4 linked regions of the Homo sapiens genome follow. The protein of the gene in region 1 interacts with the protein of each later gene in a pairwise test. Each region holds a gene or a part of one and is shown in the gene's direction. Other genes may lie near its edges.

Region 1 (7,621 bases):
GACCGTGGCCCTGCGCCACCTTCCCCGCTCAAGGAGACCTCCTTTTCCATCGGGCTGCAAGTACTGTTTCCATTCCTCCTGGCAGGCTTTGGGACCGTGGCTGCTGGCATGGTGTTGGACATCGTGCAGGTAGGACCTGAGTAGGGCAGCTCTTGACTGTGAGCCCAGGGCCACCTTTGCCTGCTGGGAAACTTGGAACTTCCTCTCTACCTCCCTGTCAGAAGTGGCTGCTGCTTCCTAGAATACTGTTTTCCTTTGGATCATGTCCTCGGTTTCTTCTTGGTCTAGTTCCTTTCTACAGAAGCCTCAAGGAAACCGAGTAGCCCTGGGGAGGTGATCAGGGCAGTATTGCTAAATAGAAACAGAATTGGCTCCCGAGCTCAGGCTTGGGAGAGGAGAGATGGAACAGGGTCGTTGCTTGCCATCTCTCCCAAGCAGTCCTGCCGAGCCCAGCTCAGTAGGAGACATTTACAAGGGTCTCCTCTTTATGCCTTTTGTCCCCTGCATTTGGGGTTTCAAGGATACCCATAGTAGAAAGCTCAGTTTCAAGCCTCTCCTCCATCCCCCTACTGGGCAGGAATTTGTTCAGCTGCCAAGAGGGTCTCAAATTAAGTAGGAAGGCTCTTGAAGGCATTTTGTGTTGCTTATCTTCCTGTAACCTTGGCATAATCCCCTTGGGGGGTGGGGGTGGGCACTTGCTGTCTGATGCATGATTTGGAGATTTGGTGTAACAAGACCCAAATGTGCTAATTATCTGCTGTAAATGGGGACAAAATGTAACTAGGCCTGGGCAGAACTGTCTCTCCTCTTTGCTCCTCACCTGTCATTCTGAACCTGCCCTGGGCAAAGAGGGTTCTTTTTGAGGACATTGGGTAGAATGAAGGATGAGAGTCGGTGGGACATGGAATCTAAGAGCCAGAGATGTGCCATGTTAATTTATTGTGAGTCAGGACTTATGAAGAACCTCCAGGTCCAAGAGTTAAAGTTTTGTTTTTAGATAAAAGTTTTTTAGGCACAGTGTGGCACACCAAACTTTTTGAAGGTGCTGGGTTTACCTAAGTAATTCAGCAATGTGTATCAAATTCCTGCTGAATGCTGGCCTCTGTCCTAGGTACTCAGAGAAATATTAATACCAAGGCAGGAGGAGATCTGGCCTTTGCTTTTTGGGACCCCCAGTGTTCCCTGACTGTGATATCTCCCAGAAGGACACGAAGCTTAGCATCACCTTCCCTGTGCCAAGCCAACCCTACAGACCATAGTGATATAGAGTTCTGCTGGTAGGTCTCACCATGCCTGTGTCCTGGGAGACTGAAGGGGGTTGGTTCTTGATAGTGTGTGCACATGGAGAACTTTGACTTGAGCCCTTCAGGGGAACCCTGCACCTTTGGTTGCTCATGAGAGTGCTGTTTAAGTCATGCCAAAGTGCCTTGCACTGCCTCCCCTTTCCCCAAAACTGTTATCTTGAAGGTTGTTCCTACATGGAGGTTGGGAAGCCAGCCTGGAGCTTTGGGTTCCTCCTGCTAGGGGCTGCTCCTCCCCCTAGGGCCGGGACTGGGACAGTAGGAGGAGGAGAAAGAGACTAGGGTAACATTTTTCTTCACCTCTTCTATTCCTTTCCTGTGGCCTCAGTTCTCATTCTTGAAGTTGTTGCATTCTGGTTTGATACCTACAAAGGGTTGCAGAGCCAGGGTCCAGAGGTGAACTGAAGAGAGTTGTCTTATTTTCTGGATAATAGTAATGGTAGTGGGGAAGCATTTGGGGGGCTCTTCGGTAGGCCCATGAGGTAGGATCCATAATCATCTCCATTTTGTAGGTAGGGAACTTGTAGCTTAGAGGGATTAGGTAACTTGTCCCTGGTCATCTGACCCTAGAGCCCACACCACTAACCCCTGTGGCCTTCGCCATGGCCATGGTTCACCAGTTGGTTAAAAACTCGGAGAGGGGGCCGAGCTCAGTGGCTCATGCCTGTAATCCTAGCACTTTGGGAGGTCAAGACGGGCGGATCACCTGAGGTCAGGAGTTTGAGACCAGTCTGGCCAACACAGTGAAACCCCGTCTCTACTAAAAATACAAAAAATTAGCTGGGCATGGTGGCAGGCACCTGTAGTCCCAGCTACTTGGAAGCTGAGGCAAGAGAATCATTTGAGCCCGAGAAGTGGAGGCTGCAATGAGCCAAGATCGTGCCACTGCTCTCCAGCCTGGGTGACAGAGCGAGACTCCAACTCAAAAAAAAAAAAACTCTGGCTGGGCATGGTGGCTTATGCCTGTAATCCCAGCACTTTTGGAGGCTGAGGCAGGAGGATCGCTTGAAGCCAGGAGTTCAAGACCAGCCTGGGCAACAAAGTGAGACCTTGTCTCTACCAAAAAAAAAAAAAATAGTCAGGCATGGTGGCATTCTCGTATAATTCCAGCACTTTGAGAGGCTGAGATAGGAGTGATCACTTGAGCCCAGGAGTTTGAAGTCGCAATGAGCTATGATTGTACCACTGCACTCCAGCCTCAGCAACAGAGCCAAACGCTGTCTCAAAAAAAAAAAAAAAAAAAAAAAGACTCTACGAGGAGCCTATTTTCTTTGTCTTTCCTTGAAGAACTGGGTGGATTAGAATCTGGATTAATTAGCGTTATCTTCTGAAGTGAGCAAGAATAAAAGTTCTTAGATGGGGTAGGGAGGGACCCCCGCATACACACCACACCCCTACCCATCCCACACACTTAGATTCCAAAGTTTCTGATGTGTTGCCCCATCCCCACTCCAGGCCCATGAGCTGGAGACATTGAGAGGCCTGGGTAGGGAACCTTTGGAGCTGCTCTCAGTGTGGCACCTCAGCTCACCTCAGAGCTAGGGTCCACTTGGTGTGGATGACAATGACAGGTTTGTCCATGTCCTCCTCCCCCAGCCTTCCTGCTACAGCTGGGCTGGAGCAGGCCCTGCAGATGGCAACAGTGAGATGGCAGGAGGGGGTGAGTGCAGAGGGACCGAGACATGGGACCACAGGGAGATTGTTATTCCACATCCATGGGAGTAAAAGGGGGACTGACAATCTCAGATTCAGGAAGAGCGGGATGGTTTCTAAGGATTCACACCTATATTACCCCTTCATAAGCTAAGATGGACTTCAGTAAGAGAATCTGAAAGTGCCCCAAGACCATGGGGCCATCTGGAGAAGCTGGCTATGGAGTGTCCCCAGCATCTTGGAGCAACTGAGCAGGAGTCCATATTGGGCCTGGTTCAGATGTCTCCTTGGTCCAGGGCCCCCATCTTTCCTTGCTGCTGTAGAAAACTTGGTTTCTTTTTCACCAACGAGATGCAAAAAAAATAAAAATAAAAAGTTGAATTTTAATTTTAATTTAAAAGAAAAAGAAAACCCACTCTCTTCCTAGAAGGGTCATTTCTGCCTCCTCTTATCTGCCCTCCCGTAAATGTGCACAGCAGCATCTGCAGTGAAATAAGGGGCTGGTGCTGGCCCAAAGTAGGAAAAGGATAAATGGACCTCCATCTGCTCTAACTTCCCAACCATGGCTGAAAGTTCCTGCAGCATCTGGAAGGGAAGCAGGCTGGGGCCTGGTGTTGGCTTCTGAAGGGGGTTGGGATATGGGAGCCTCCTCACTGCAGGAGCCTTGTGCCCATCTGCCCAGTTTGGTCCTAGGCTGCTCCGGATGTCTCACTCCCTTTATCTGTCAGCCTTTGTGAGGGATGGGGTGACAGGAAGTAGTGTGCCCATCTGCACTTTAATTCCCAGCTAGGTTAAGACAGGTCCTTATTTTAACTCACTACTCACCTGCTAAGGATCTTGAACAAAGTAGATCCTGCTGTGTATACAGAAGTCTACAACGATGAAAGTGCATGGCAAGCGTGGCCTTGGGGAAGTAGAGTGGGAAGGAAGTATTCCTCCTGTGCCTGGCCTGCTCCTGTGGCCGCAGCATCCCTGGGCGGGACACTCTTATCTGCTTCACTTGACCACCCCTTCTGCTTTTCCCATCTCTGTCCCCTGCCTGCTGTCAGGGACCCATTTGCTTTGCTCCTGCTTTGTCCTGCACCGTATATCCAGGTGTTGCCCTAAAGCCCTTTCCTGGACACCTAGAGGATGCCTTTTGGAAAAGCCTCAGACAGGTGAAGCCTGGGGTTACTGTAATCTCATCTGACCCAGTCCTTACCCTAAAAGATCAGCTCCAGCCCAGCTTCTCCCACAGGAGCCCAGATTCTCCCCAGCCTGGAGCCTAAAGCTTGTATCTGGGAATTTAAGTCTTCTTAATGTCTTGATTCCTGGCTCTGACTTTCTTCCCTGCTGCTACCCTCCTGAGGTGGCTCAGGCCAGAACCCTTGAAGGCAGGTCAGGGTCAGTGTATGAGCTTGGATTGGAGTAGGTGAAGGATGGAAGAGGCGCATTGGAAGGGCAAGGAAGAGGTACTGGCAGGACCACTGAGGATCGAGACTTAAGGTGATTGCTGTGCCTCAGGATTCATTTTGGCTATGGGGGAGGCAGTCTATTCCCTCACCTGCAGAATACCAGGGATCCATGAGCCCCTCACACCAAGGTTAGAGAAGGAAAGAGATGAGGAGCTGCATTTCTGAGAAGTAGTTAAAATCTAGATGCTCCCCTCACCTCCAAGCAGGGCAGCACTTCCTGGAACATGCCCTTTTTCATCCCCATCAGAGCAGGAAGGCGTGGGTGGCTGCTTGGCAGACGGGTGTGACTTCAGGGGCAGATACTCCTAGCCTGGATGAACAGGATGGGGCTGAATTTGGCCAAAGGAGGAAGAAGAGCTACTCACTGTCTGCCCCTGCCCATCCTGTCTACTCCTAACCTTAAGGCCACCTTGATTCCTGGGCTGGCTCCACATCTCCAGCCTCCAGCATCTCTTTCCAGAGTCCTATGCATGCCCATGTGTCAGAGGCTTTCTGCCTGAGCTGCAGCTTTGAGAGGGTTTGTGGGTGAAGAAAGTATGTGTGTAGGAATTGGCTTCTCTGACCCAAGTGCCAACTCGGGGCTTTGCTGGCCTGGGGTCAGGTCGTTTGAGGTTCCAGGCTATATTCTGTAAGAGTCGGGAAGACTTTTGCATAGGGGCTGTTACTGTGACTGCTCCCTCTCCTTGCCTGTCTGTCTCTTATCCCACTGCTCCTAACACTCCGTACTTTGTAGATCCTCCTGTAGCTATAAGGAGAGGGTGCATTGTGCTGGGAGGTAGAGAGATTTGGGGTGCTTATGGTAGCAACCAGAGGAACTTAGCTGAGCTTTATACATTTTTCTTAAATAATAATAAAAGCAAGCAATATTCATTACAAACAGCTCAGAAAACATTGCTTGCATACATGTGGAGTCTTCTTGTGGGCTTTTTCTTTCTATGAGTACATGTACATTACATACACCTACCTGTAGAAGTCAGATTTTCATGGAGCTGGCAGCTTGGAAGCAGGGTGGAGCTGGTGTTTTGGGGTGAAGATGAGCTCTGAGGCTGTGCTCTGAGAGGAGCTTTGAAAGCCCGCAAGGGAGGGGAGAAGAGGGGGATTTTTCCCCTCTCTGGAGCTGGTTTGGGAGGAAGCAGGAGGCGAAGCAGAGCAAGGCCAGACTGCAGGGAGCTGGAGCCTCAGTGGTATGTACCAGCCGTGTCCAAGAGTAACAGTCCCCAAGTTGCTCCAGGGCAGATGGGGCTCACTGGGGCTGCCTTCTCTCTGGGGGGTCTTAGGGTGGGAAGGGATTCACTTCCCTTCAGTGTTTGGAGAGGGCTGGCTCATCCTTTGGCTGCCTGGAAGCCCAGTAACTGTTGTTGAGATGGGGGGCAGTCTCTTCCCCATTGTTAGTCCCTACGGTGGGGCTTCCCTAAGGAGAGTCCCAGGTCTTGGCCAGACCAGAAGCTCAGGCAAGCGTATGCTCCAGCCCCAGTGAAATGAGTCCTTCCCCAGGATCCTGTGAGGCCTCCCACCCCATTCACACAGGGAGAGCTCCGACAGGAAAAGAGAGGTTCTTGCCTTATAGGGCCACCCAGCGCCCAGCCTCTCCTGGTCTCAAGCCCTAGCCCCACCCCCTCTGATAGCCTTGCTTATCTTTTTGGTTATTGTGGTAAAAAATGTGTAACATAAAATTTACCATCTTAACCCTTTTTTAAGTGTGCTGTTCAATAGTACTACGTATATTCACCTCATTGTACAACAGATCTCCAGAACTCCTCATCTTCCCCAGCTGAAGCTCTGTACCTATTAAACACTCACTCTTTTCCCTGCTCCCCCAGCGCCTTGCTTCCACCATTCTTCTTTCCGCCTCTATGAATTTGACTACTTAGGCTGGGCTCGGTGCCTCATACCTGTAGTCCCCACACTTTGGGAGGTCGAGGCGAGAGGATCCTTTGAGCCCAGGAGTTCGAGACCAGCCTGGGCAATATAGTGAAACCCCTGTCTCTACAAAAAATACAAAAATTAGCCAGGTGTGGTGGTGCATGCCTCTAGTCCCAACTACCCGAGAGACTGAGATGGGAGGATGGCTGGAGCCCGAAGCCATGATTGCACCACTGCACTCCAGCCTGGGCCACAGAGTGAGACCGTGTCTCAAGAAAAAAAAAAAAAAAAAAAAGAATTTGACTACTTTGGATACCTCAGATAAGTGTTTTTTATCTGAGTGTTTTATCATACAGTGTTTTTTATGACTAGAGTAATGTCCTCAAGGTTCATCCATGTTGTGGCATATGACAGGATTTCCTTCCTTTTTAAGGCTGAGAAATATTCCATGGTATATATGTACCACACTTTGCATATTTTGTTTATCCATTCATTCCTTGATGGACATTTGGGTTGCTTCCACCTCTTGGTTATTACATATAGTGCTACTATGAACATGGGCATATTAATATATCTTCAAGACCTTGCTTTCTATTCTTTTGGATAAATATCCAGAAGTGGGATTGCTGGATCATGTGGTAGTTTTATTTTTAATTTTTTGAGGAACCACCGTACTGTTTTTCATAGCAGCTGCACCATTTTATAGTCCCACCAAGAGTGCACAAGGGTTCCAATCTCCACATGCTTTTTTCTTTTCTTGAGACGGAGTCTTGCTCTGTCACCCAGGCTGGAGTGCAGTGGCACTGTCTCGGCTCACTGCAACCTCCAACTCCCAAGTTCAAGCAATTCTTCTGCCTCAGCCTCCCCAGTAGCTGGGATTACAGGTGTGCGCCACCATTCCCGGCTAATTTTTGTATTTTTAGTAGAAACAGGGTTTCACTATGTTTGCCAGGCTGGTCTCCAACTCCTGACCTCAAGTGATCCACTTTCCTTGGCCTCCCAAAGTGCTGGGATTACAGGCATGAGCCACTATGCCCAGCCCAAACTCTACATCCTTGCTAACACTGATTATTTTCTGGGTTTTTAAATAGTAACCATCCTAATGAGTGTGAGGTGATCTCTTACTAATCTACAGTATTGCTCAACTTTATTTTATCTATTTTATTTTATTTTATTTTATTTTATTTTATTTTATTTTATTTTATTTTTGAGACAGAGTTTCACTCTTATTGCCCAGGCTGGAGTGCAGTGGTGCGATCTTGGCTCACTGCAACCTCCACCTCTTGGGTTCAAGCGATTCTCCTGCCTCAGCCTCCCGAGTAGCTTGGGATTACAAGCATGTGCCACCAC
Region 2 (7,763 bases), about 96 Mb from region 1:
CTCTGGCCCTATGTCAAGCTTCTGAAGCAGGGTTGTGCTGAGCAGTGGGGATTTGTGTCTGCCTCCCCAGGCTTCAGCACCGGGGATGACCCCACCCAGGTCCTGGACAGTATTTCCCAGAGAAGGGGACAGAGCCCAAAGCCATGGGGAAGGAGGTACGTGGCCTGGGTAAGCTGCGTCCTGGCTTGGAGGATGTGAAAGAAGTTCCAGGGGGAGATAACTCCCCTCCAATTCAGAGCAATTAAAGTGCCAAGTTTTCAGGCCCCAGGGAAGGGTTTTGGGGAACTCCCCTTTCCATAACTGTGCTTCCCTGTCTTCTTCCTTGCCTCATCCCCATAGTATAGATCTGGGGTTTGAACCCCAGTTGCTCAACTGTGTGGCTCTGCAAAAGTCACTTAACCTCTCTAAGCCCCAGTGTCCATATCTGTAAATGGAATCATTGAGACTAACAGAGAAGATTGTGTAAGACTACTCACACGAATACGCCTAGTGCTGTGCCTACTGCCAGAGCTCCCTTCCCGAGTCTGGAAAAGGACTGTTAGGGCAGATGGCCCCCAGGCCACAGGGCAAATGACTAATTCGCTTTGCCCATGCACTGGGTGTAGGGCAGGGCCTGTGGAGGGACAGGCTGATGATGGGAAGGTTGGATGGGAAGAACATGCAGAGGATATTACCCTGATTGCTAGTGAGGAAGGGCCACTCAACCTGTAGACCTATTTATTGTGTTATTAATAAATAGGAGACCCAGGAGCTCTCTGGGACTTTTCTGTGGGGTTCCAGCATTGAGCCCCTGCTGATGGACAGGAGGTGGGCAGCATGGGAAGGGCCCTGGTCCATAGCAGGCCTGGCCTAAACATGCACTGTGGGTGTTCCTGCCACTCTTTTGAGCCTGGTTCATCCGAGGCCCCCAGTTTCTAATCTGGTTGGGAAGGATTTATTTTTGGGTCCCTGTAACCTAGCAATGGGCTCACATGACCAGTGGCAGCTGCAGGCTGAATATACCATTGGATCTCAGCTCCTGGCAGGGGGTGTAGGCCAGACAGTGGGGGAATAAAGAGAATGGAAGGGCTCTCACCTCTGCTTTCCTCTGCCTCCCTCCTCAGCCCCTTGGCCTGGCTCCCAGATGCTGGGCAGGGTGAGGTGAGTGCTTGGAAAGCAGGCATGGCTGGTGCTGGTACAGGGGGGCCCCAGGAAGCCAGGAACTGAGCTGTGGTGTGGAGGTCCCAGCTGTAAGCCTGCTGTCTGGTTGGCAGGGGCGGGGGGGTTGGGTGCCCATGCGGATGGAGGTGGATGCCAAGAGGACACAATGCCAGCAGCTTGGCGGGGGAGGCCTGGCTAGGGAGTAGGCGGCTGACAGGCAGTCTATGTTGTGGGATCTCAGGGACATCCCTGGTCGATGCTGGAATCCCAACGTTCTGCTTCTTCTCTTTGTTCCCTGTTAAATTGTTAATATTCCTGGGAAAGAACACATTAAGTTGCTATCAGTGCAAATGGGTTTATCAACCTCTTTCCTGAGAGCAGATTCTGACACAAGGCAGAGAAGGAGGGTAGTGGGTGCCACTGAGCAGGCAAGGGGCTCTAGGGAGGGGGCAGTGGCAACATAAGAAGTCTTCAATGTTTATTGAAGAAGTGGATGGATGAATGAAAGATAAACTTGATTGGCTTCCAGGTCTCATCCTGGGGCAGAAAAGGGTGGATGGGCAGACACGACCCTGTCACGAGGTGCTGGTGCACAAGGGTTGGGTAAAACTGTACCAGGGAGCAAGTCTAGGATGCAAAGATCAGTCCTCAGCAGCAAGGGCCCTGCCATGATACCAAGGGAAGGGGTGCCACTGTTGGAAACAGGGCCTGGTCCCCGTCCTGTAACAGGATTCCCTTCCTGGGTGTGTGCACAGCATAGTGAGCCATGGATCTCTTATGTGGTTTGGGGGATCACACTCAGTTTCTCCATCTTGGTCTTCTTGCCCCCTCCATTGTGCTAAGCTTTACTAAAAGGAGGGACTGGCAGGTGGGGTTGGGGGTGTGCTGTCAGTAGCTACTCCACACCCTGACTGAGATCATTTAATAAGATACAGCATAAGAAGTGCCTCCCAAAGTGGGCCTTCAAGAACTAGTAGCATTATTATTATTATTATTTATTATTATTATTTTTTGAGACAGAGTCTCACTCTTATTGCCCAGGCTGGAGTGCAATGGTGCGATCTCAGATCACTGCAACCTCCACCTCCTGGGTTCAAGCGATTCTCCTGCCTCAGCCTCCTGAGTAGCTGGGATTACAGGCATGTGTCACCATGCCTAGCTAATTTTTGTATTTTTAGTAGAGACGGGGTTTCGCCATGTTGGCCAGGCTGGTCTTGAACTCCTGATCTCAAATCATCTGCCCGCCTCAGCCTCCCAAAGTGCTGGAATTACAGGCGTGAGCCACTGTGCCCAGCCAGCATGATTATTATTATTATTTATTATTTGCCCACAGGCTAGAATAAGCAGTTCCCCCGCCGACCTCCTGAGCCAAGATGGTTCCAACAGCTGGAACATGCTGCCTCTTTGGTACTGCCTTTCCCAATAGCTCTCTGGGAGGGGCTTCAGGACACGGACGCCTTGCCTGCTGGCCACCACATGAGCTGTGATTACCTGTGCTAGCTCCCTGAAGCTGGAGAGGCAGGCTATGTTTGTTTTGCAGGCTCCCTACCACTATTAGATAAGCTTGGAAGTGAAGAATTTTGCCCATTTTCACAGACAGCCAACTCACAGGCCAAGGTCTTACCACCAACCAATAGAATGGCGCCAAACTGGAACCAAGGTTTTCTGACTCCAGTCTAGCGCTCTTTCTAAAATCCTGTTCCAGTGGGCCCAGGTCTGCTCCAGTTCTTATTGAATCCCTCGGAAGGGGCCATGCCAGTCTGGGCTGGGGCCCTGCAGGAAGAATGTGGGTGCTGAGCAGGGACAGGCTTTACCTAATCCCAGACAATCTGCTTGATGCCAAATTAATCTTGCCAACACAACAGCACAGGGCTTCCTAAAAATCACTTTGCTGTCTACAGGTTTTCAATTTGGTATTTCCATTTGAATTTCTTGTACGCAGGTATGCCTAATTTTGAGGTCTGTTTTAGGCTTTCTGGAAGGCAGTGACTACTTCTATGAAGATAGCTTTTAGGGCTGTAGTCCACAGTCTTGTGTCAGGCCACTGGAGAGGCCACGGAACGAAGGGAGAAGGAGGAGGAAATACTTGGACTTCAAACAGATCTGGGTTCAAATATCAGCTCTTGCACTTATTAGCTGTGTGATTTGGGGAAAGTCACTTCTCCTCCAGCACCCGGTTCCTCACTTATAAAATAGGGCAAGTCATGGCTGCCTCATAGATTGGTGTGGGGATCAAAGAAACTGTATGTAAAGGGCCTGGCACTCATAACAGCTCAAAAAGTGGTGGCTGGTGACAGCGGCACTTGCTGCATCGGCTCTTGGTTTGTCAGTGGCCTCTTTGTTTTTGACCTGGGGCTTGGGGCAGCCAACTTGTCCCAGTGAGGTCCTTGGGTAACTCATTGTTCTTATGGCTCTTTGGGTTGGGTCTGGTAAACAATTCCAGAATTCCCTTTTTCCTTCTTAGAGGCAGAAGGAGTCCCTAGATAGGCAAGTCTCAGGGAAGCAGGCTCTGGAGTAGGGGATCATGCCTGAATTCCCTGTTTAGACTCATGGCTCTGCCATGTGGAGCTATGTGGCTTTGAGCAATCTCTTTATCTCTCTGGGTCTCAGAAACATGGATACCTTGGCCTGTAGGATGTCCTACAGCTTTGCAATGTTAGGATTCTATCCTTGGGTATCAGTCATGTACCCGGGTAAATGATCATTTTCTTCATAGCTAGAGGGAGGCCATGCCCCTTCATTGCGTCTCTGAAGGCCCATCATGCCACAGATGGGCGATGCTCAGTGGCTGATGCTACCTAGCTCTGTCCAGTCCCACAAATCCAGATCAGTGTGAGCATTCCTGAGTCCCTGGCCCCCACTCTGTCTCCTTCAGGAAGCAGTGTTGTGGTGGTTCCCATGGTGGCTCGGGGGGATGTTAGATCCTCCCGCCCCCTCCCTGCCAATCTCCATCAGCCCTCACAGCCCCAGTTCCAATAAACATACAATCTAAGCAAATAATAATAATGTGCTTTTGGGAGGCAAGGGCAGGGTTAAGACAAAGCCTTCAGCTGCCCTTCAAACCTGAGTGCTGCTCCTAAACCTGTCCCCCATACGCATTAGGCAGCTTCCAAAGGGGCCAAACCTTGGACCATCCCCTGGAGCCTCAGCCGCCTCCCTGGCCTAAGCCTTGGGGCCCTGGGTCTGCGCTGACCTGCCTGCATCAGCACCTTGGTTCTGATGTCACACAGAACCATGCATCTCTCCTATCTTCTCTTTGAACTGCTAAGAAATCAAGGCCAAAATGCAACTTGCCCAAGGTCACACGGCTAGTAAGTGCCATAGCCAGGCCTTAAACCTGGATTTTCTGACTCCATGTACTTTTTTTTTTACTTCATCAGGCTGGTCAAGAGGGTCTCCCCTACCTATCATTTCCTGGCCCCACGAAATTTTTGAGACGCAATCCAGCAGCCTGAGAGAAGTGAGAGGAGTTGAGCTCACTGCCAGGCACCTTGCCTGGGGCATTGGTGCCCACCTTTTTGCTCCAGAAGTGACTCTGAGGGGCTGGGTGGGAAGCAGGAGGCCATTAGGACCCAGAGGCTCTCGGAGCACTCTGCTTTGCCGGCTGCCTCTCACCGCTCACTGCAGTGCTTCAGGCTTCAGCAGCCTTGGAGAAGCATCAGCTGAGAGGAGCTATCACATGGGAGCCGGGACTGCTCAGCAAAGGTAGGAGTTGCCGACTAGGCCAGGAATGGGGGCCAGACCCAGAGCCTGGTGGTGAGTGCCAAGGTATCCCCACAGAAGGGTGGCTTTCCAAGGACCAGCCCTGCCTACATTCCGGTGAGCAGTTTGATCAGGAGATGGGCTCTCAGGTATCCCAAAGGCGGTATTGGGGTGTGGGCATCTCTGAAGCCCAGAGCTGGGGGGTTGATCATCTCCTGCCGGCAGGAGTACCCACATCCTGCAGACAAACAGCATTCTCCATCTGTCTTGCTCCATGTCATGGACATGGGTCTCCCACATTCTAGGAATGGGCCCTTCAGCATACAGGCTGATGGGCAACTGTGTCCTGGGCGTGGGCAACTCTGCTGAGGAGAGGTGTTGTAGCTCCCTGGAAATCTTCCCTAGCTTAGGAGGGGCACGCTCTTGTCTGAAGGAAGGCCAGGCTCAGGTCTTTGGGATGGAAGCTCTGGATCTGGAAAACAGGTGCATGTGAATCCCAATACCTCTGTGGCCTTGGGCTGGGCACTTATGCACATCTTGCATCCTGTAACTTGACCATGCCCCTGCTAGAGGCCCAGACCTCAGGCCCTAGTGGCAAAGCCTTCTAGGTACTGAAGGTCCTGGAGGTAAGAGGGGTGCTGTTGGAAGTAAGTAGTGGGGGAAGGAAAGCATCTGTTGGGGGAGTAGGCATAATGATATGACCTGGGAGAGGAGTGAGGCTCCCTGGGTTTCACCTATGAAACTGTTACACCACAGCCCTCCCCTCCATAACCCCAGTCCATTAGTGAGGGAGTGCCCATTAGCCAGATACACTGATCTGTCTGTTAAGAGGTAAATTGGAATCCTGGCATTTAGGAGTCACTGTGGAGACACTGGCAAGCTTGAGGGAGCTATGAAAAAGAGCAATGTCCAATGCCTTCTTGCTCAGGGCTCCATCATGGCTTCGTGGCATCCCTCCAGCTCCACGTGGAAACCAGGTCTGCTTCCCTCCGTCTGGGACTCTTGATGTCCATCCAGACATGGTGGGCCTCTCCTCCTTCAGCCACCAGGGAGGGACTCTGAACCACATCCTCTGGGCCTCACTCACAGACAGAAGGGATAGGTAAATCAGAGCATGGAGAGTAAGAAGGAAGGATGCTTCTCCTAGCATTTCTTTCAGGCATTTTTCCTGGTAGACTCTAATGAGAAGCTGATGTCTCACTTTTGTGCCCGCTCTTCAACTTCTCTGCAGACTCTAAGTCTCTGTGGGCATCTTAACTGTGAAATGAGCTTTCTGTGTCCCTAGAGAGAGGCACGTCTCTAGGCAGTTGCCCAAAGTTAGGGCTTCCTCAAGTCCAGGAACCCCGGCTACCCTTTCCACAAGAGAGTCCCTTGGCTGGCACACAGCTGGCTGACTGAGTGTTCTTGGAGTTTGTCCTAGGGGGCAGGGATTCAACTACCAATTTGAGTTTGATTCAATTCACAAAATTGTATTCAGCACCTATTGCATGCATAGCATGTTAGAAGTTGGATTGGTGTAAGGTTTATGGAAACACCAAAAACCAAAGGTGACTGTAAGGCTATAACTGTGGAGGAGAGTGGGGCCCATCTTGCCATGTGATCCTCTTTATTGCAGCCATAGAAATGATGGGTTTTTAAACTGAGCAACCTCAGTGTCTCCTCCCTACTTCTTGTTCTGTGACTGTAGTAAGTCTAGAACCAATGCGGCTCTTGGTCAGGGATCCTCCAAGGGTCAGCTCCAGAGATCAGAGATTTGGGGATCTGGGGAGCAGGAGGTTGGCAGCAGCTCCTTTCCCACAAGAGGGGCACAGTGGCCTTGAAGAGTTCATGAGTGGGTGGAGAAGGGCAGCTTGAAGCAACTTCCGGCTTTGGGAGCAGTGGAGGCTGGATGAGCTGGCCTCCCAGTTTCCTTCCAGACGGGACATTTTGTTTTCACTGCTCCTACTCAACATTCCCAAAGTGGCAGCTCTTTGTGCTGGGAGTAGTGATGTCAAAAGAGCCTAAAGCACAGCTCCCCTTTTCAGATGATAACCCTAGGGCAGCAAGAGACAGTTTTAGAGACAGCTGAAATTCAACAACTATTTACTGGATGCCTATTATAGTCCAGCCGGCACGGAGGGCACCTTCACATATGGCATGGCACAGTGGGCAAGAGTACTGGACCTGGGGCCAGACTGCCCAGGTAGGTGCCCAGCCCTTGCCGCTTACTAGCTGTGCGACCTTGGGTAAGTTACTTAACCTTTCTAGACCTCAGCTTCATCTCTTGCAAAATGGAGATAAAAATATTATCTACTTCATAGGGTTGTGTGAGGAATAAAATGAGTTAATATAGGTAGAGTGCTGAGAACAGGGTCTGGCATGTGGAAAACGCCGTATCAATGCTACTGCTTGTCATTAGTATTATTATTAACAAATCACGCAGGATCCAGAAACACAGTTGTGAAGCAAGTGTTCTTCCTTTCATTTTACAGATGGATTTATGAGGAAACTGAAATTCAGAAGATTCACAGAGTTAGTAATGCCCAGAACTGGGACTAGAAACTAAATTTTGTGCTCCTTCTACTCCCCAGCAGCTCTTGCCATTCTGAGGAGACAAGAAATCAGGAAATTTACATAAGGAACCCTAAAACTGAGGCACTATCCCAGAGATCAGCAGGACCCTGGGAAGGAGAAACAGGATTTAGAATCCCCGGCTAACAGTTCTGGAAAGGGTAGAAGGGTATGGAGAACAAGAATGGCAGAAAGGAGATGGAAAAGGAAGAGGTGAAGGCCATTCCGAAAGCGGAGTGTTGAGTGGGTCAGGCTCCTGCACCTCTCACGTCTCCTGCTTCTTAGCAGTCACCAAGGCAGACCCTGCAGCTACCTCCGGCCAGAAAGGGGATGAGCTTCTGATCCTTCAGCTGCCTGGCCTGGCGCTCTGT
Region 3 (7,621 bases), on another chromosome or scaffold:
TCCTAAAGTGTTAGCCCTCCATAAAATAGAAAACAATCTTAAGAATGAATTAGGTTAAGGTTCAGACTATTTCTCCCTCCATCTCATCTACATGCATTATCCCATGCTAAACTTGGTTCTCTTTTTTTTTTTTTTTTTTTTTTTTTTTGAGACAGAGTCTCACTCTGTCACCTAGGCTGGAGTGCAGTGGCGCCATCTCTGCTCACTGCAACCCCTGCCTCCCAGGTTCAAGCAATTCTCATGCCTCAGCCTCCCAAATAGCTGGGATCACAAGCACACGCCACCACACCCAGCTTAATTTTTGTATTTTTAGTAGAGATGGAGTTTCACCATGTTGGCCAGGCTGGTCTTGAACTCCTGGCCTCAAGTGATCCACCCACCTTGGCCTCCCAAAGTACTGGGATTACAGGCATGAGCCACTGTGCCCGGCTTGGTTCACTTTTCATGGCCCAAAATACTATCTGCATTATTAATAATAAGGTCACAGAATACTCCACTAAGGAGAACCTTAGAAAACAATGAGTCCTATCTCCTGCCCATGGTGAGATTCCCCTCCATGGCACTTCTGGCTTGGACACTTCCAGTGACAAGGTACTCCCTGGGCAGGGAACAAAGAATAATTGTTCCTTATTTTCAGCTCAGGTCTTCTGCATGTTGTCTGTCCACTGTTGGCTCTAGCTCTGTTCTCTGGGACCCTCTCCTAGATAATAATTATTAACATGAAAAAATCAAGTAGTAGTGACCCATACCATCTGGTCTCTCTCCTCAGGACTCACTACACTTGGCCTTATTCAAACATAGTCTATGGGGTGGTCAGTCTACTGCCAAGTAGAGTAGTTATATTACCCAAGCCCCATCTCTCACCTCTGATTCAAGCAGCACCCTGCATTTTTATGGAAGCTTTTATAAAGCATCCTTGGCACTCATGTCAACAATTATATTAAAACTGCAGTCAATTAGAACCCTTCATTCTTTTTAACTGTTCATCATTACTGGACCTTCACCCCATCCTATATATATGCCATCAATATTTCTCATTCCAAGTTCGGGATATTTATATTTATCTTTATTGAATTTCAGTTGTTAGTTTTGGCCTCTGACAAGATTGGCCTGGCAAGATTTTATTTTTTTTTTTAACCAAAATTGGGCTGGGCACAGTGGCTCATGTCTGTAATCCCAGCACTTTGGGAGGCCATGGCGGGAGGATTGCTTGAGTCCAGGAGTTTGAGACTAGCCTGGGCAACATAGTAAGATCCTATCTCTACAAAAACAAAAGTTAGCCCAGTGTGGTGGTGCGTACCTGTAGTCCCAGCTACTCAGGAGGTTGAAGTGAGAGGATCGCTTGAGCCCAGGAGTTCAAAGCTGCAGTGAGCCAAGATCCCACCATTGCACTCCAGCCTGGGAGACAGAGGGAGACCCTATCCCCTGCCACCAAAACAAAAAACAAGAACAAAAACAAAAAAAAAACAATAAAAACAAAATTGTGCACATATTAGAGATAGTACAGTTATTTCTGTAAAGCCTACTGCCTCTACTAATTTTAATAATAATTTAGGTAGCATATATGTGATTCCTACAGAGTTTGAAATAATTTCAGTTTTGACATTAGTGAAGAAAATCCATTGTAAAATGTTTTCATACCAAGAGTTTAAAGAATTAAGACTTCCTTTGATTGTGTTTTTGTCTAACTTTGAAGTCTAATTTATTTCAAATCATAGTATAAAATAGTTCTGCTGGAAAAATAATTGCCAATAAATTATTTCACTTTACTAGGCCGGGCATGGTGACTCACGCCTGTAATCCCAGCACTTAAGGAGGGTGAGGCAGGAGGATCACTTGAGGCCAGGAGTTTGAGGCTAGCCTGGCCAACATGGTGAAACGTTGTCTCTACTAAAAATACAAAAATTAGTTAGGCGTGGTGGCGGACACTTTTAATCCCAGCTACTTGGGAGGCTGAGGCAGGAGAATCACTTGAACCCAGGAGGAGGAGGTTGCAGTGAGCCGAGATCGTGCCACTGCATTCCAGCCTGGGTGACAAAAGCAAAACTCCAGGGACTGGGCACAGTGGATCATGCCTGTAATCCCAGCACTTGGGGAGGCCAAGGTGGGTGGATCACCTGAGATCAGGAGTTTGAGACCAGCCTGGCCAACATGGTGAAACCTCGTCTCTACTAAAAATACAAAAATTAGCCGGGTGTGGTGGCACGCGCCTGTAATCCCAGCTACTTGGGAGGCTGAGGCCAGAGAATTGCTTGAACCTGGGAGGCAGAGGTTGTGGTGAGCCGAGATCGCACCACTGCACTCCAGCCTGGGCGACAGAGTGAGACTTCCTCTCAAAAAAAAAAAAAAATTTAGCCGGGGATGGTGGCACATGCCTGTAATCCCAGCTACCCAAGAGGCTGAGGCATGAGAATCATTTGGACCCGGGAGGCAGAGGTTGCAGTGAGCTGAGATGGTGCCACTGCACTCCAGCTTGGGTGACAGAGCACAACTCTGTCTCAAAAAGAAAAAAAAAATTATTTCACTTTACTTACCAGTACTATTTGGATAACGTTAAGTAAAACTCCATCTCTTTATATAATGTACCATTTCCATTCAACTAACTGCTGTTCCTCCCCTGCCTCTGTCCAATGAGCAAGGTTTAATGTGTTACCAGAGGGAACAATTAAAGAGTTCCTGGAGGCCTTGGGGCTCTGAAACAAGCATTAATTGATGCAGTCTGCACATATTGGGTTTGTAAGCTCTCAGTGAGTTGAGAGGAAAAAAAGGAAGAAAAGTTCTACAAGGTGAAGTGGCTACAACAGAGAGAATTCTGAAGGCCTTTGGTCCTCAGTTGTCTATGAGCTTGCCAGGAGGTGGCCAGGGTACTGTAGAGATGAAATGAGCTTTTGATGAATTTGGAAGAGAGGAGAAAAAGTAACATGCTGGCAGTGTAGGGAAGGCGGTATTTAATAGTAAAACATGTGTAGCAGGACTTAAGAGCTTGAGGAATCATAAATGTCTCACCTTCCTTTCTGTCCCTGCTCTCCATATTGTCATTGCATTCGCAGTTTCTAGGGTACCATGGGAAAAGGCAGAGCCTGTCACCATAGAAGAGAGAGAGGAAGGGAGGCAGGATGCATATGGCAACCTGGAGTTTTTAATACAAAACTCAATGATACCTTTCATTTTTTAGGAGAGGGAGGTAGCCCTCCCTATTTGCAGGTGAACATCTTCCAACCAAATGAATCATTCCAAGTGGGAATATTTATTCATTTATTTTTTATTTTTTTGAGACAGAGTCTCACTCTGTCACCCAGGCTGGAGTGCAATGGCACAATCTCGGTTCACTGCAACCTCTGCCTCCCGGGTTCAAGCAATTCTCCTGCCTCTGCCTCCTGAATAGCTGGGATTACAGGCGCGTGCCACCACACCTAGCTAATTTTTGTATTTTTAGTAAAGGTGGGCTTTCACCACATTGGCCAGGCTGGTCTCAAACTCCTGACTTCAAGTGACCTACCTTCCTCAGCCTCCTAAAGTGCTGGTATTACAGGTGTGAGCTACCTCACCCAGCCAGAATGTTCATTTATTTAAGTGGATGTGTGTAACTGTTGCTAGTGGAATAAATTCAGGACGGTCAATATGCCTTCATATCTGTGTCTTCAAAAAGCACTGGCAGGCCAGGTGCGGTGGCTCACACCTATAATCCCAGCACTTTGGGAGACCAACGTGGGAGAATCGCTTAAGCCCAGGTCTGTTTGAGACAGGCCTGGGCAACATGGAAAGACTCTGTCTCTACAAATAAAAAGAGCAGGGCGTGATGGTATGTGCCTGTGGTCCCAGCTACTTGGAAGGCTGAGGTGGGAGGATTGCTTGAACCCAGGAGGTTGAGACTGCAGTGAGCTGTGATCATGCTGCTGCACTCATCCTGGACCCTGGGCAATAGAGCAAGACCCTCCTCTTAATTAAAAAAAAATTCCTGACAGATAGTAGAACTAATGTCAGCCATGATGAGATTTGAACCTAAAACAGGTTGGGGCTGAATGACCAGCCTCTATGGCACTTAAGAGGCACCTTCTCCACTAAGTGGAAATAGACTTTTATCCCCCTCTACTTTATTACTCCTGTAAAACCTCCAGTGCTCAGCCCTGCCTGTTCATCTCCTTAAAAACACAGGAAAGGCTACTATCCACAGATGTTGATAAATTTTTCCCTTTTTTAGGTAACAAAATAAACTGGTTTCAAAAGCAGATTAAATGGCTATACTTGGCACTCTGTGAAGGGCATTGTCGAATCAATGCACAGGGTAAGGATGTCAGAGGCTAGAGAAAGGGTAACGAGACTGAAGTTGAGGAGCAAAGATCTCCAACCTCTGACAAGTTGTCATGGCAAAGTCCTAAGAAGGATCATGGCAATTAGGGTGGCTCTCCATGTCCCATGACGAAACCCAAACACTGAATGTTGTGCAATCATAAAAACCAATTTTCTGAACTACAAAAATGATCGAACCATAAAAATCAGGAACACCTCTGGTTCCAGTCAGACTAAAGATCAGAGGATCCCTGGTCGTCCAGCCTTCCAACATCCCTGACCTTCTGAAGTCTAAGATCTCTAGCTGGGATGTGCTTCTTCTCCTTTCTTCTTACTGTAACACCTCTTCCTACAGAGCTCTGGCCTCTCTACATGGATTGGGAACCAGATGTTGTCCCTGAGCAGCCTCCCACCGTGGGCTGTCACCCTGCTGGCATGCATCCTCGTGTCCATTGTCACTGAGTTTGTGAGCAACCCAGCAACCATCACCATCTTCCTGCCCATCCTGTGCAGCCTGGTGAGTAATGCGGAGCTCCCAGACATCCAGACAGGCTGTCCCAGGGGCCTGGAGTGGCAGGCCTGGCTCAGGGCAGCTTCCGTAGCTGTAGGCTCTCCTCTGGTTACTGCCCACAGCCTTCACTAATTGGTGTTCAATTCCTATTTTGAAAAATGAAGTTTTTCAAATAGCAACTAGTAAATAAAAAGATACACTAATAAATCATAGCAAGAGTTCTAGAAACCTTTGTCCAAAAGAGTAGGATTAGTTTAGGGGCAGCCCTGAGTGGAAACCAAAGAACATACAAAATAATATTCAAACCCTATCATTTCAATTCCCCGCAATCATTATCAACCTTTCTCTCCTGAGATAAAACCTGAGTAGGGCCAAAGAGGTAGCCACAGAAAATGGAGGTAAAACACACACAGCTGAAAAGACTGAGCTCACAACTCAGACAATCATCACAGCCTCCACTGAGTTTCACTGTCCTCCGGGAAGTTCTGAGGATTGGGAGCAAGGTCAGCTTTGCTCCACAACCTCAGACCAATTTGTTGTGAATAGAATAAGGGAGGGGAGCAACGGCCAGATCTTAGCCTGGCCAAGCAGCCGGAAAGGTGATGCATCTGACCCAATGCTTCATCTGTCCCATTCTGGGAGGCAGAATCCAGGAAATGAAGGCCCCTCCTGACCCCAGCAACATAGTCTCCTACTGCTCTTTCTAACCCCAGAGCCATACTCTCTGCTCATTGCTCAGATGACCCCAACTTCTCCCTTCCGTCATCTTGCTCCTGCGAGCAACAGAGTGCAGTTAAAACTTGGCAACATTGAGAGCAGGACCATGGATTCAAATCCCATATAAAACAATTATCTTCCCTAGGAAAAAAAAAAAAAAAAAACCACCTTAGTTCTGTACCCTAAGACTGAGGAATCCCCACTTCAATCAAAGCAACCTATTCATGAGATTTGAGTTTAAGGAAAGGAAGTCTCAGCTAAAGAATAAAGTTTAGGAACCAATTCCTTAGAATAACACCAAAAAAATCAAACATCCCTTCTAGGGAGTAACTCAAAGCCATATTTCCATGTGGAGCAAGTAAGCAGCATCAGCCTATTCAGGTTGTCAAGGGACTGCATGCCCCAGAGGGCAGAGACCTAACTACCCCTCCACATAGTGTCCTGCTAAGGTTAGCCAGCACCAAGTCATCATTAAAGCATGCTCCTGACATTAAGCACAGGAAATGCAAGCCTAATCTCGTGAATGTTTCTGTGAATTCTCTCTTCTAGTCTGAAACGCTGCACATTAACCCCCTCTACACCCTGATCCCAGTCACCATGTGCATCTCCTTTGCAGTGATGCTGCCTGTGGGCAATCCCCCTAATGCCATCGTCTTCAGCTATGGGCACTGCCAGATCAAAGATATGGTGAGTTGGGGTGCCCTCTCCCTGCCAGGCCCAGCTGCCATGAGGACAGGGATGACAGCTCTGCAGCCTTCTTTCAAAGCTTATTTTGTAGCAGTGTCCCTGGCCTGTCAATGCTAAACCCAGTGTGGTAGCAAGAATAGCACCTATAAAAAGGTTTTTGTTGGTCTATAAGCACCAAGGATAGCAAGAATGTGCTCTCCCCAACCCTTCCCTGGAAGGAAGTGGGTACCTAGGTAGAGAAAGCTGGAACAGACAGGCTGTGGCCCAGTTCCAGAAGGCATGAGCCTGTGCAAACAAGTTTTGCCTTCGTTTCTTCATTAGGCCAGTGGAGACATTCATTGAGAAAGCTACTGGTTTATTCACAGAAGATGAGAATGAGGAAGTGTATGAACCTAGGGTGAAAGGTATTTTGAGAAAACAGGATTCTTCTGCTCAACTCACCCTCCACCCCGGCCCAGGCAAGAAACCCCTGAAGCAACAATGGAAAATGAAGCGTCCACCATTCATTTTCATTTTCAGCTGGGCTCACAAAAGATGGCTTTGAGATATTTTGCTGCTGACTTTAGCACTGGGCCTATCTACCTTCTACTCCTCTACCTATACACCTGCTGCTATACTTAGTATCCAGGGCTGAGCGGGGGGGGAGAGGATGGAAAACACTGATACGAATTACTGATGGTCTGACAATTTTTTTTCATGGGAGCCAAATTTGTTCTCGGGCAGCCCTGTAAAGTAACAAATAGAGGAAAGGAAGAAAAAGTTTCAGGCTGGTGGCAGATATTCAGGTCCTTTTTTATCCTTTTTTTTTTTTTTTTTTTTTTTTTTTTGAGACAGAATCTCACTCTCACCCAGGCTGGAGTTCAGTGGTGCGATCTCGGCTCACTGCAACCTCTGCCTCCCAGGTTCAAGTGATTCTCATGCCTCAACCTCCAGAGTACCTTGGACTACAGGTGTGCGCCTCCATGCCCAGCTAATTTTTGTATTTTTAGTAGAGATGGGGTTTCACCATGTTGGTCAGGCTGGTCTTGAACTACTGGCTTCAGATGATCTGCCTGCCTTGGCCTCCCAAAGTGCTGGCATTACAGGTGTGAGTCACTGCTCTCAGCCTATTCAGGTCCTTTCGACTGTTCGAACTGCTCATCTAAGTCATCCGTGATACTTCCTTGAATGGAGTGTCCCAGCCATCCCTCTCCCCTCCCATCTTACTGCGTAACCCTCAGTCTGCTCACGCTGAGCTCTACCCCAGCTCTCCTGTCTCCCGCTTCCTCTGCTGTGTGCCCCCACCACTGACCCCTAGCTTTCTACACTGGAATCAAATGATCAGAGGCAGTAATTTTCAAAGGTACCAGGTGACAAGAAGTGAGCCAGTCTTGGGCACTATTCCCAGCTTGGGCACTACCTTGACTTCAATTTCCT
Region 4 (7,676 bases), on another chromosome or scaffold:
TCCCGGGTTCAAGCAATTATCTGCCTCAGCCTCCCGAGTAGCTGGGATTACAGGCGACTGCCACCATGCTCAGCAATTTTTTTTGTATTTTTTAGTAGAGATGAGGCTTCACCATCTTGGCCGGGCTGGTCTTGAACTCCTGACCTTATGATCCACCTGCCTTGGCCTCCGAAAGTGCTGGGATTACAGGTGTGAGCCACTGCGCCCAGCCTCTGGGATCAGAGTTTTTAAAGATAATTTGGCCGGGTGTGGTGGCTCATGCCTGTAATCCCAGCACTTTGGGAGGCCGAGGCGGGCAGATCACGAGGTCAGGAGATCGAGACCATCCTGGCCAACATAGTGAAACCCCATCTCTACTAAAAATACAAAAATTAGCCGGGCATGGTGTCGCATGCCTGTAATCCCAGCTACTTGGGAGGCAGAGGCAGGAGAATCCCTTGAACCGGGGAGTTGGAGGTTGCAGTGACCCGAGATTGTGCCACAGCACTCTAGCCTGGTGACAGAGCAAGACTCCGTCTCAAAAAGAAAAAAAGAGAGAAAAAAAAAGATAATTTGGCTGGTAGGGGCTAGGCAAGTAGGGAGTGCTGATTGGTCGGGTTGGAGATGGAATCATAGGGGGTCGAAGTGAGTTTTTCTTGCTGTCTTCTGTTCCTGAGTGGGATGGCAGAACTGTCTGAGCTACATTACTGTTGGAGGTGGTGTCAGCAGATCCATCAAGTGCAAGGTCTGCAAAATATCTCAAGCACTGATCTTAGGTTTTACAATAGTGATGTTATTCTCAGGAGCAATCTGGGGAGGTTCAGACTCACAGCTGAAGGCTGCATGGTCCCTAAACCATAGTTTCTAATCTTGTAGCTAATTTATTAGTCCAGAAAGGCAGACTGGTCCCCAGGCAAGAAGGGATTTTTTTTTTTTTTTTTTTTTGGAAAAGGGCTATAATCAATTTTGTTTCAGAGTTAAACTATAAATTCCTTCCCAAGGTTAGTTCAGCCTACACCCAGGAATGAACAAGGACCACTTAAAGGTCAGAAGCAAGATGGAGTAGGTTAGGTCTAATCTCTCCCACTGTCATAATTTCCTCAGTTATAATTTTTGCAAAGGTGGTTTCAAGATCAAGATGAGAAAAATGGGTCTTGGAGAGGTGAAATAACTGGTTTAAAAGCAAAGAGCTGCATTCTCTATACCTCCTCTCTTGTAGAATAAATGAATGATGTCTCTCTTGTAGGGAATTAGACAGATAGATGGGCAGCCACCACATTGGTTGTAATTAAGTTTCATTCTTTCTTCACCAGCCCAGCATTGTACTTGGCTGCAGCAGACCCAGAGCAGGCAGGACTGCCTTGTGGGGTGTGGACTGTTCTCCTCTGAGGCTGCAGAGAGCAGACAGCAAAGATCTGTCTGCTGCCCTTGAGGGGTGGCCATAGAGGCTTGGGGACAGGCAATTTCTAAGGGGATACAAAATGGATCCTTCCCCATCCTCCCACTTGTGTGCAGATATTTCCCGAAGTAAAGCTGAGCTAAACCCTAAAGGATAGTCAGGATTTAGATGGGAGAGGAAGGTGAAAGAAACAGATGACCAGGCGCAGTGGTGTGTACCTGTAGGCCCAGTACTTTGGGAGGCGGAAGTGGCAGGATCAATTGAAGCCAGGAGTTCAACACCAGCTTGGGCAACAAAGTAACACCCTGTTTCTAAATAAACAAACAAAATAAATGGATGCAGGGAAACAGTAAAATAGTTACTAAATGTGTATGATGCATGTGGGCTGGGCACAGTGGCTCACGCCTGTAATCCCAGCACTTTGGGAGGCCGAGGCGAGCAGATCATTTGAAATCAGGAGTTCAAGACCAGCCTGGCCAAGATGGTGAAACCCAGTCTCTATTAAAATTACAAAAAAAAAAAAAAAAAAATTAACTGGGTGTGGTGGTGAGTGCCTGTAATCCCAGCTACTTGGGAGGCTAAAGCAGCAGAATCTCTTGGACCTGGAAGGCGGAGATTGCACTGAGCTGAGATCATGCCACTGTACTCCACCCTGGGTGACAGAGTGAGACTTTGTCTGGAAAAAAAAAAAACCCCAAACCCACAAAAAATAAATTAATAAATGTGTATCATGTGCTTTATACTATGTTAGTGACAGAAACACAACAGTGAGCAAAACAGACCTCAGCCCTACCCTCATGGAGCTTTCAGTCTAGCGGAGGATACAGGCATAAAGAACCACCTATACTAGTATTAATTACAATCTGCAATGGGTATTGTGAAGGAAAAGTACAGGGCAATAGGAGAGCTTATGTTGGGTATGAGGTGATGATGTAACCAAGAGAGTGAAGGGAAGCTACTCCTGAAGAAAGGCATCTGAACTTGCATTTAAAGGGTAAGGAGAGGTTAACCAGAGGATGATAGTGGGGCATGGGTTAAGTGCATACCAGGTAGAAGGAACACATGTGTAAAGGCCCTGAGACAGGAGGGCACAAGGAAGGTTTGAGCAACTGAAAAGAACTTGCATGGCTGGAACAGTGGGTGGGGGTTGGGGGCTAGAAGGGGTCAGAAGGGGAGAAACGTAGGGGCAGATCCTTTAGGACCTTGAAGACAAACTAAGAATTTGGGCCTTTATGATTTTTTTTTTTTTTTTTTGAGACAGAGTTTCACTCTTTTTGCCCAGGCTGGAGTGCAATGTTGCAATCTTAGCTCACTGCAACCTCCGCCTCCCAGGTTCAAACGATTCTCCTGCCTCAGCCTCCCAAGTAGCTGGGATTACAGGTGTGCACCACCACACCCAGCTAATTTTGTATTTTTAGTAGAGATGAGGTTTCACCATATTGGCCAGGCTGGTCTCGAACTCTTGACCTCAGGTGATCTGCCTGCCTTGGCTTCCCAAAGTGCTGCGACTACAGGCATGAGCCACCTTGCCTGGCCTGATTTTTTTTTTTTTTTTTTTAACTGAGACAGGGTCTCACTCTGTCACTCAGCTGGAGTGTAGTGGTGCAAAGATGGCTCACTGCAGCTTTGACCTCCTGAGCTCAAACAGTCCTCCTGCCTCAGCCTCCCAAGTAGCTGGGAGTACAGGCACAGGCCACCATGCCTAGCTAATTACGTGTGTGTGTGAGATATGTATATGTATATATATATATATATATATATATATATATATTTTTTTTTTTTTTTTTTTTTTTTTGTAGAGCCAGGGTCCTGGTATGTTGCCTAGGCTGGTCTCGAACTCCTGGCTTCAAGTGATCCTCCTACCTCTGCCTCCCAAAGTACTGGGATTACAGGCATAAGCCACGCACCCAGCCCTTTATGGAAATTAATTGAAAAATTTTAACAAAGTTCTGTGATAATTTTGCCCCCTTTAAACATATCTTTGATTACAACATGAAGAACAATAGACCAATTAACAGCACTGTATTAGTTCAGGGTAAAAATGACAGTGGCTGGGATTCGGTGACAGCAGAGATGAATAATACCAGACAGATCCAAATAAATAAGGTGGATTTGGCCAGACAGTGGTTCATGAGTATAATCCTAGCATTTTAGGAAGCCAAGGCGGGAGGATCACTTCAGCCCAGGTGTTTGAGACGAGCCTGGGCAATATAGTGAGATCCCCATCTCTACAAAAAATCCATAAATTAGCTGGGTATGGTGGTGACCAGCTGTAGTCCCAGCTACTCAGGAGGCTGAGGTGGGAGGATTGCTTGAGCCCAGGAGCTCGAGGCTGCAGTGAGCCATGATTGCACCACTGCACTCCAGCCTGGGCGACAGTGAGACCCTGTGGGGGGCGGGGGCGGGGGAAAGCGGAGCTGTGGAGAGTGAAGCAGCCACCTCCCCCATGATTGAGGCTGTGTTGCTGAATTCCGTGAGTCACTTCATAAATGTTTGATGTCCAGGTTCAAGTCCCAACTCAGGTCCCAAAGCTGATGGGCCCAGGAACCCTCGTCCCTAAAACGATGAAACGACATCAGAGGGCGAGCAGCCCTAGAAGAAGCAGGCTCAGCTCGGGTGGAGGACTGCTGGATGGTCCTGGCACTTCTCTTTCCCCGAGCACGTTCTGCAGAAGAAGCGCTTTCCTAGTTCTCCCAAGGCCTCTGGCCTCACCTGTCACCCCTGTCCTTTGCCCAGGGATCAGTTTGGACTTCTTCCCAAACTTGGTCTACAGAGAAGTGAAGGGGCTGTTTCCTGTCCCACTTTTGAGAGTTTGCTTTAGAAACATAAAATTGGAAGGTGTCAGATTGATAGGCAGTTGGGAAGGACTCCGGCCACGCCTCTGGCTCCGTAGACGCTCCGCGCAGCCAAGACCCCTGAATCCCCAGCAGAGCGAAGATGTGGACGGAAGCCGAATGCCCACCCACCGCACTATTGTGGGCTGGGCGGGGGGGGGGGGGGGGGGGGCGGAGCGACCCCGGTGCCGTCATAGGGCCACGCCCTCGGGGGAGGGCATCGCGCCTGCGCCAGAACCGCTGCCTCGCTCCCGGAAGTGGAGGGTCTACACGAAGCGCCGCTGGGTCTGGGTGCCCGGAGGCAGCAGCGTTCGCGGAGTTCGCCCGCTGGCCCCCGATCACCATGTCGGCTTTCGACACCAACCCCTTCGCGGACCCAGTGGATGTAAACCCCTTCCAGGTAGAGCCCCTCTCCCGCCATCCAGCTCTCAGATTTCCCTAGGGCCCACGGCCGCCGCCCGGGCCTCTCGCTAGAGCCGGGAGACGTGGCGTAGGAGGGACGGGTCATCTGCCCAATGGGAGAGCGGGCTTTGAGGTCTGGCCTATCGTAACGCGTGAGGGGCGCGACTAGCAGCAGGTGGAACTGCAGAGGAGGCGGGGCGCTGAAGTGTTGGAGACAGTGGGGTCTTCTAGCACCCGGAGGCTGGGCTGTGCTAGGGAAGGGGACTGGAGCAGGTACGGTCGGACCCTTCCGGAAGTCTCCTAGCGTCAGGGAGAAGCGAAATGTGGCTATCGCATTCCCTCATTCTTGGATAGACACCTGTCTTGAGTCACTTTAGAAGAGGGGGTGACAGCAACATATGAGGAGGTGGTGAAGCCTCTGGTGGAGGGGAAAAATGTGGGAAAAGCCCAGGACACCTGCCACCGCTCCACCACCAGCCAAACTAGTGTATAAAGTACAGGAGAGCCCCTGAGATTTGTCAGGGAAAGAAAGATGGGAGAGGGCGGGAAGGTAGCCCAAGTTGAAAAATGGCCTTGATAAGAATTCCACATTTTGGCCATGGGTCTAGTTTGGAGTGGGTTTTGACCAGATAGGAGAGCCCGGGTTAGGGAGAGAGGAGAGGTGCGGGGGACTGTGAAAAATTCTGGACCCACAGGGAACGTTTGTCTGATGGAACTGTGTGTGGTGGCAACATAGTTGAGATGCACTGACGTGTGAGCTGGCCTGACTTTTTTTTTTTTTTTTGAGACGGAGTCTCGCTTTGTCGCCCAGGCTGGAGTGCATTGGCACGATTTCCGCTCACTGCAACCTCTGCCTCCCGAGTTCAAGCAATTCTCCTGCTTCAGCCTCCTGAGTAGCTGGGACTACAGGCGTATGCCACCACACCCAGCTAATTTTCATACTTTTAGTAGAGACGGGGTTTCACCGTGTTGGCCAGGCTGGTCTCAAACTCCTGACCTCAGGTGATCCATCCGCCTCGGCCTTCCAAAGTGCTGGGATTACAGGTGTGAGCCACCACGCCTGGCCTGACCTTTTGAACAGCAATCAAGGAAGAAACAATCTTCCTGCTTTCTTTCTTTTCCTTTTTTTTTGTTTTGTTTTGTTTTGTTTTTTGAGACAATTCTTGCTCTGTCGCCCAGGCTGGAGTGCAGTAGCGCGATCTCGGCTCACTGCAGCCTCAGCCTCCTGGGTTCAAGTGATTCTCGTGCTTCAGCCTCCCGAGAAACTGGGATTACAGGTGTGCACCACCACACCCGGCTAATTTTTGTATTTTTAGTAGAGACGGGGTTTCACCTTATTGGCCAGACTGGTCTCAAACTCCTGGCCTGAAGTGATCCACCCACCTTAGCCTCCCAAAGTGCTGGGATTACAGGGGTGAGCCACCACACCTGGCCTCTTTTTTTTGAGACAGAGTTTTGCTCTTGTTGCCCAGGCTGGAGTGCAGTGGCGCGATCTCGGCTCACTGCAACCTCAGCCTCCTGGGTTCAAGCAATTCTCCTTCCTCAGCCTCCTGAGTAGCTAGGATTACAGGCATGCACCACCACGACCGGCTAATTTTGTATTTTTAGTAGAGACGGGGTTTCTCCACGTTGGTCAGGCTGGTCTCGAACTCCCGACCTCAGGTGATCCACCTGCCTCGGCCTCCCAAAGTGCTGGGATTACAGGCATGAACCACTGCGCCCAGCCCTCTTTCTTCCTTTTTTAAGGCAGGGTCTCACTCTGTCGCCCAGGCTGTAGCACAGTGGAGGTCATGGCAGCCTTGACCTCCAGGATTCAAATGATTATTTGAATCCCACCTCAGTCTCCTGAGTAGCTGGGACTACAAGAATGTGCCACTGGGCCTGACTCCTTTTAAAAAAAATTTTTGTAGAGAAGGGGTCTCGCTGTGATGCCCAAGCTGGTCTCGAAATCCTGGTCTCAAGCAATCCTCTGGCCCCAGCCTCTCAAAGTGCTATGATTACAGGCATGAGCCACAGGACAGTCTTCCTACTTAAAGCCCACACCTTTCTGCCTTTCAGCTGAGAGCACAGGGATGATCTTTTTCCACCATGAGGGGCTGAACTGTTACCTCCAGAGCTCCTATGCCTCTTGTTTCACGTCTGCTCAAAACCCGTTCTAGGGAAGCTTGTTTGTGCTGACTGGTGAATTATGAGCCCTGATATTCTGCTCTGTCAGGATGTCACCAGGCACATTAACTCACCCTGCTTGTCCTTTATTTTGGTCATTGGCAGCTTTTAAGTTTCCTGCAGGTGTCAGAGAAGTCCTTGAAGGAGTCCTTCCTGTCATTCACAGCATGAGTTTTCCCACTTTGAATCGCTTCAAGGGTCAGAGCAAAATCAAAGGAGACTTGAACTAAATAATTATACGCTGTCAGGAGAGTGAAAATGTTTTGCTTCTTTCTTGGTCTCAAGGTGTCTTAGCCAACAGGAGCCCTCAGGGCAAATTCTGATAGCTTGTTCCTTAGAACATCAGGGAATTCTGAACATTCCTCTCGTAGCTTAATGTTTCTTGACAGAGCGTTTGCAAGGACCTTGTCTCTTATGTAAGGCAAACAGTCATCTCTATTGAGTAAAGAAAGAAGATTTGCATTTTTTTTTTCTGCCAATGTCTTCTGGTAACAGACTTTAATTACAAAACTGCTGTATAATACTGGGGTTTGGGTTTTAGTAGGATCTTGTAGCCTTATGGTGTATGTTGTATGTGATGATTTTCCATTTTTTATGTGTGTTTTTTTGTCCTCTCAGAATCAGAAATAAAAAGTCTGCTGCTGTCTGACAGAGAGGAAGTCAGTTGTCTAAAAATGCAGAGAGCTTTGCTCCAGTGTTAGCAGAGGGCAAGATAGTTCTACCCTGTATTAATAGCTGCTTGAAAGTCTTAAACCTCATCTCTGGCTCCAAAAATGACTGTGCAAACTGTGGTAGAAGTAACTTCTGCATTCTAGCGAGACAGTCTGTCCATCAGGAAGCCCCAGGATATGGCATGACAGGAAGCAGCTGTGGTCCTGTCAACCAGCCACATCTGG

Evidence for each region.
Region 2: the proteins of SLC41A1 (region 1) and GPR61 interact in binary tests that used the Homo sapiens proteins (3 or more experiments, as listed by UniProt).
Region 3: the proteins of SLC41A1 (region 1) and SLC13A4 interact in binary tests that used the Homo sapiens proteins (3 or more experiments, as listed by UniProt).
Region 4: the proteins of SLC41A1 (region 1) and SCAMP2 interact in binary tests that used the Homo sapiens proteins (3 or more experiments, as listed by UniProt).

Annotation. Positions count from the first base shown.
Region 1 is NC_000001.11:205,802,578-205,810,198, reverse strand, and holds part of SLC41A1 (solute carrier family 41 member 1), read left to right. Parts: coding exon 1-129; intron 130-7,621. UniProt on the Homo sapiens protein: Na(+)/Mg(2+) ion exchanger that acts as a predominant Mg(2+) efflux system at the plasma membrane.
Region 2 is NC_000001.11:109,535,109-109,542,871, forward strand, and holds the start of GPR61 (G-protein coupled receptor 61), read left to right. Parts: upstream 1-4,763; 5' UTR 4,764-4,845; exon of another isoform or gene 4,846-4,959; intron 4,960-7,313; 5' UTR 7,314-7,763. UniProt on the Homo sapiens protein: Orphan G-protein coupled receptor. Constitutively activates the G(s)-alpha/cAMP signaling pathway. Shows a reciprocal regulatory interaction with the melatonin receptor MTNR1B most likely through receptor heteromerization.
Region 3 is NC_000007.14:135,682,708-135,690,328, reverse strand, and holds part of SLC13A4 (solute carrier family 13 member 4), read left to right. Parts: intron 1-1,300; exon of another isoform or gene 1,301-1,425; intron 1,426-3,006; exon of another isoform or gene 3,007-3,318; intron 3,319-4,645; coding exon 4,646-4,807; intron 4,808-6,067; coding exon 6,068-6,205; intron 6,206-7,621. UniProt on the Homo sapiens protein: Sodium:sulfate symporter that mediates sulfate reabsorption in the high endothelial venules (HEV).
Region 4 is NC_000015.10:74,870,135-74,877,810, reverse strand, and holds the start of SCAMP2 (secretory carrier-associated membrane protein 2), read left to right. Parts: upstream 1-4,445; 5' UTR 4,446-4,555; coding exon 4,556-4,612; intron 4,613-7,676. UniProt on the Homo sapiens protein: Functions in post-Golgi recycling pathways. Acts as a recycling carrier to the cell surface.